2 separate regions of the Homo sapiens genome follow, and region 1 is linked to region 2. The links come from fine-mapping of genetic effects on gene expression. A gene starts in region 2. The other region holds a variant in brackets. All regions are shown on one strand. Distances are from middle to middle. Region 1 overlaps SPTBN1 (spectrin beta, non-erythrocytic 1). Region 2 holds the start of SPTBN1-AS2 (SPTBN1 antisense RNA 2).

Evidence for each region. PIP is the estimated chance that this variant, and not a neighbour inherited with it, causes the effect.
Region 1: its variant is fine-mapped to the expression of SPTBN1-AS2 in whole blood (GTEx, PIP above 0.99).

What each region holds. Positions count from the first base shown.
Region 1 is chr2:54,558,858-54,561,769 of GRCh38, forward strand. All of the region lies in intron 2 of SPTBN1 (spectrin beta, non-erythrocytic 1), which reads left to right. Among named protein-coding and RNA genes, the nearest start is that of SPTBN1-AS1, 1.6 kb to the left of the region's middle. RefSeq lists an enhancer at 1,387-1,556. The variant C/G (reference allele first, on the strand shown) is at 1,598.
Region 2 is chr2:54,678,521-54,681,432 of GRCh38, forward strand. SPTBN1-AS2 (SPTBN1 antisense RNA 2) reads right to left here and starts at 1,525. Exons shown (of 3, transcript NR_186176.1): 1 at 1,304-1,525. The region is part of intron 1 of LOC105374653 (a long non-coding RNA gene); the gene reads left to right.

The DNA.
Region 1 (2,912 bases), 120 kb before region 2:
AGCTGGAAGGCAGATTCAAGCAGCTGCAAGGTAAGCCCCCTCCCAAAGGCCGGGCCTGTCCTGGGTGCCAACGGGGGTTCTTGGAGGCTTTATTTGTGACCCTAATGAAGACGGGCGGCTTCACAGCTCGGCCCCAGACCCTGTGGTTGGCTGCGGGCACCCCATTCACGACTTAGGGAAGGCAGTTGCTCATACTCCACTCCAGAAGAGCTACCATTTGGAGTCCCTGTCTCTCCAGCACCTTTTTGGCTTTCTAGGTTGTCAGATAACTGCTGCACACACATTTTCTTTACTTTTAGCTAACTTTACCTCCTAGTAGATCAGTGCTCATAGACTTATTAGTATGCAGGTATTTGATTCCGGGTCGCCTCTGGCTCCCAGCCCCCAGCCTCTTACCTCTGGGAAGCTTTAAAGGTGTAAAGTGCCGTGCTCAGACCCAGTCCTGTAGAACAATAGCAAAGGGGAGGAGGGAGGGGTCTTTTTGTTCCTAAGCCTTTGGTAAATTACAGTTTTTTATTCAGAAGCTTAATTTTAATTTTTCTGATGTGTTGGGAAGAGCCTTCCCATCTATTTAGTGGGCTATATAATTTCTAATGAAAGCCGGTTATTGTCATTTCAACCCTATGGGTTGGATTAGTTGGATCAATTACAGGTTTCTTGGAGTCTTTTTAAGGCTCAGACAATTGAATGAGTCCAATATTTTACTGAACATATTTTTAGGGAGAGCAGAAGCCTGTGTGTGCACCAGTGTGCTGTTTTCCCTGCGGCCCCTGCACCCCTCAGCTGTCCCTGCCCAGCCAGCAGGCCCTGGCCAGCAGTGTCTCAGAGCTTATACATGAAAAAAGGTTCCTAACTGAAAACAGAACTCCTTCCGTTTGGAAGCCCCTGGAGTCAGTAGTAGGCTGGGAATGGCTCTAGCACTGTAAAAAAGTAGTATTCGAGGACTGTGTGTTTCTTATTTTAACCTCCTCAGTGCTGCAAATGTGGTTCCTGTGAGGAGGAGGAAGGAAGGAAGCCGCTCAGCCCTAGAATGTTTTTCATTGGGAAGAGGGGGGAGGATGTCTTTCATTCATTGGTTTATTTGTCTTGTGAAATAGTTGACAGTAATGACACTTCTCTGGAAAACGAGGCAGAACAGGACGTGATTTTAAACATTTGCTGGGCTGTGCCACATTCCTCTGGCAGTTAGCTCAGAGGAAGCTCCCTTCGCTCTGGGGAACGGTTCTGTGTCTCTTTGGTTCATTTCTCTTGAGCTCTTCGGCAGTCAAATTTGCTTTTTTGAAAACTTAAGCTGGGGGCGCTTGCAAGTAGTAAATAGAGGAGTTGGGGTGGGGGGGGGCGTTCATTATCTAGGTTTGTTAGGGGCCTCACGGTTTTCGGGTCGGAGAATCCACTGCGTGCTCCTCCTCTTCCCCTGGCCCGGACTCCCAGCTTCATTGTGTCATCCCGCCTGGGGGAAAGCACCCACCGGGATCGTCAGCCCACTCCACCGCCAGCCTAGCCTGGAAGTCTCAGAAAAAAAGCAAAACTGGGAGAAAATAGAAGGTGTGAGGGAGGAGTGCACCCCTAGGCCCACCCATAACAAAAGGCTGTTATT[C/G]CGAAAGGGCTGAGGAAGGTTTTAAAACTGCTCGCCGAGAAGGGTGGAGCCTACACACAGGAAATGTCTTAACTGTCCTCTCTGGACAACGTAAAGTTTAAATTTAAAAAAAATCATGTGCCCCTGATATTTTACCTCATACGCTGTTTCTCAAGGAAATCCCTTCGAAAGGGGTAAGCTTCGTGTTTTGTGTGGTAGCTTTAAAAATAATTTTTTTTAGTGTGACCCTTGTCTCCTAATTTAGCCCCAGTGACTTTCTTATTTTTAAATATTGTGGTTTAGGAGTTGCACAAGTTTAGTGTTGGTATTTCTGTAGCAGAAAACCACCCATGTTGAGGAATTGAGAAAGGGTGAATTAACTTTCAAGTATGGTGGACCTCAGGAGAATTACACACATTTGTCAGCATCCTTCAGAACAAATGAACCGATTGCATTTTAAACAATCCTAGGAGAATTTTGATTAAACACACACACACAAAACCTTTCTTTAATTCCCATCCCTGGTTTTGTGTTTTGTTTGGTATTTGTAGTTCTGATTATCACATATTTTTGATAACATATAATTTCTATCTGCTGATTTAATTTTGTACATTCCTGCAAGGGTGCCTTTTTTTACTCTTCTGAGTATAATCTTTCCTAGCACATAATCTCTGAATATTGGCAAAATGCTCCTCTGAAACTGTATTGGGTTTTTTGTTTTCGTTTTAAGAGACAGAGTCTCACGCTGTTGCCCAGGCTCTAGTGCAGTGGCACAATCACGACTCAACAGCAGCCTTGAAGTCCTGGCTCAAGCCATCCTCCCACCTCAGCCTCCCAAGTAGCTGGGACTATACCATGTCTGGCTAATTTTTAAATTTTTTGTAGAGACAGAGTCTCACCATGTTGCTCAGGCTGGTGTTGAACTCCTGGCCTCAAATGATCCTCCCGCCTTCACTTCCCAAAGTGTTGGGATCACAGATGTGAGCTACCTTGCCAGTCCTGTACTGGGTTTAATGCCTCTGATATGAACTTATTTATGTATTGTCTGTGCCTGATAGTGCTATGATTTTTCTGGAGTTGTTTCTGCATTTTGGCTGGTTTCAAGTTACTTTCCACACTGGGTCCTAAAAATTTCAGGAGGTGTGCCATAGAATGAGATTTGGAGTTCTGGCTAAGGAGAATATAATTTTAAAATGAGTCTGGTCTATTTAGATAAAATGGTTTATAGCGATTTATAGTTTATAAATTTATAGAGATATTATAAATTTATAGTTTAAATATAGTTATATATAAATATAAATCGAGTTATATATTTATATATAAATATAGTTATATA
Region 2 (2,912 bases):
TTTTTTTTTTAACTCTAACAACCCACTGGCCCACATGCCTCAAATCCTACATAGTTAAACATCACAAGTACCTATTCTGCATACAATTTTTACTTACATATGCATCATAAACATTTTGCTGTGTTTCTACAAGACTTTGTGATGCTTATTTCAAGGACTATTGGTAGTTTTCCACAAGTTGATGCAGCATCAGGCATTAAAATGCTCCCCAGATGCTGAGCATTTAGCAATAACACCATTCTCCACCAAAGAGGCTTGTGTTCCCAAAATTACAGCTCTTGGTTCTTTTTGAGAGCAGTTTTCTGGGGGCATAAACTGCCCCCTGGTATGGCTACTGCACAGACCATATTCCCCTTTAATCACGTGCCTTGGTGCAGGGTACGCATCTACTAACCACTTTCCCCTTGTGGAAATGTTCTCCCAGGGGAGTCATTCTCCTGCCCAGCCTCAGAGAGAGCCTTGATCTCAGCCGCTCTGACAGCTTCAGTCACTTTACATTTCAGGAAACTGAATATAGGTTCTAATCTCTTTGCTCTCTAAAAGCTTCTGGGGTCCTAATGCAAATTTTATCACCCCTAGTTTAACACACTGTAAGCCCACATCAATAATTTTCAAACACAAGCACACAAATAATTTTTATCTTACCAAACACCCTCCCAAGCTTCTTGGCAATTGCCAGGTCAGAAGCTAAGGACACGTTTACAGATTTTTGCTAAATATTCCTATTACTCCTTTCCAAATTACTTTCCAAACAGTGTATCCATTTAGTTACTAGCTATAAACAAAGGTACAGTCAGTCCTCACTTAAGGTTGTCAATATGTTCTTGCAATCTGAAAGTAAGTAACACCAATTTTACCACAAGCAAATTAATATTCCTATGGTTTATTTCTAGTCACAAACACATCAAAATTCTAAATAAAAACCAAAGGCCGGGCGCGGTGGCTCATGACTGTTATCCCAGCACTTTGGGAGGCCGAGGCGAGTGGATCATAAGGTCAGGAGTTCAAGACCAGCCTGACCAACATGGTGAAACCCCGTCTCTACTAAAAATACAAAAATTAGCCGGGCATGGTGGCGCATGCCTGTAGTCCCAGCTACTCAGGAGGCTGAAGCAGGAGAAACACTAGAACCTGGGAGGCAGAGGTTGCAGTGAGCCAAGATTGCACCACTGCACTCCAGCCTGGGCAACAGAGTGAGACTCCGTCTCAAAAAAAAAAAACACTTCTGATATTAACCACTGAAATAAATATGAGCTATACATACATTTAAGAAAGATAAATAAAAGCAAGTAAGATAACTTACTCAATAATAACAGTTCTCTAGGTTGCCGGAGTCTCCAGTCTCCGGTTGCTGTAGCTCATTCCAGCAGCTCAGGGCTTAAAGTAAGAACCAGCCCTGAACAGGACACTGTCACATCGCAGGGCACACTCACACACACCCCACACTCACACCAGGACCATGTAGACATGCCGGTGAACTGAACATGCACCTCTTTGAGGGGTGGGAGAAAACCAGAGCATCCAGAGCAAAACCCCTGTGGACGTGGGGAGAGCATGCAAACCACACAGACAGTGGCCCTGGCAGAGAATCAATTTTTTTCTCATCATTAAAAAAAAAAAAAAAAAGTTGAATGAAATGACATTATCTGAGGAACTGTTCTCGTTGTTGTGCTACAGAAACAATTGTTTTTGTTTTTAGTAACTATCATATGGCACCTCAAGCTGTGAGTTTCTTTGACTGCTAGCTAGGGTCAACTTTTTCTCCTGTTTTTGTCATCTTTCTTTTTTCTCTTTCTTTCTTTCTTTCTTTCTTTCTTTCTTTCTTTCTTTCTTTCTTTCTTTCTTTCTTTCCTTCCTTCCTTTCTTCCTTCCTTCCTTCCTTTCTTTCTTTTTCTTCTTTCTTCTTGCTTTTTTTTTTCCTTTTTGTTGAGATGGGGTCTTATCTGTCACCCAACCTGGGGTATAGTGGCATGATCACGGCTCACTGCAGCCTCGACCTCCCAGGCTCAATCGATCCTCCTGAGAGCTGGGACTACAGGGATGTGTCACCACTTTCTTTTTGAGTGAATTGAATTGTTCATTCATATCTGATTTACTGAGGGTTCTGAATCACAAGCCACAAAAACCAACTCTGGCTAATTTAGCAGAAAAGGAACTTATTAAGGCTCCCAGAATCTCCAGGAGGACAAGGGCACCAGGCTTAGGGCTTATACAGCCAGGAAAAATGTCCAAAGTCCAGCCTAGGGCAGGCTCCTGGAACTCGTCACTGGACTCTGACACTGCCAGGTGCCCACCATGACACCATACTGTGCGCAAACCCTGCTGTGGGAATTGCTGTCTTTGACAGCAACACGCTGCTGCAGTGACAGCTGTCCCTGCCACTGCCCTCACAGAACAGATTCTGCCAGGCTCCCCTCTGCACATGACCAGCCTCTAATTCAAAATCATGCAGGTGTACAATTGACAGATACTGGCCATGGATCTGTGCCCTTGCTGCAAGTGCAGCTGGGAAAAGACCTCATATTCTGCAGAAGGAAGGTTCTGCCCCTTGAGGTTACAGATTCTGCAAACACAGGAACAGCGTTTAAAAAGTAGCTGGCTGTGTGAATTTCCCTTTGCTGCTATACCAAATTACCACAAACTTAGTGGCTTCAAACAACATAAATTTATTATCTTACAGTTCTTCCATAAGTAAGAAGTCTGACACAAAAACTCACTGCATTAAAATCAAGGTGTTGGCAGGGCTCTTTTCCTTTTGGGATGCTCTAGAGGAAATTTCAATTCCTTGCTGTTTGCAACATTTAGAAGCTGCCCACATTCCTTGGCTCATGACCCCTTCCCCATATTCAAAGCCAGCAATAGTGATCAAGTCTTTCTCACACTGCATCACTGTTGCCATCCTCTGCCTCCTT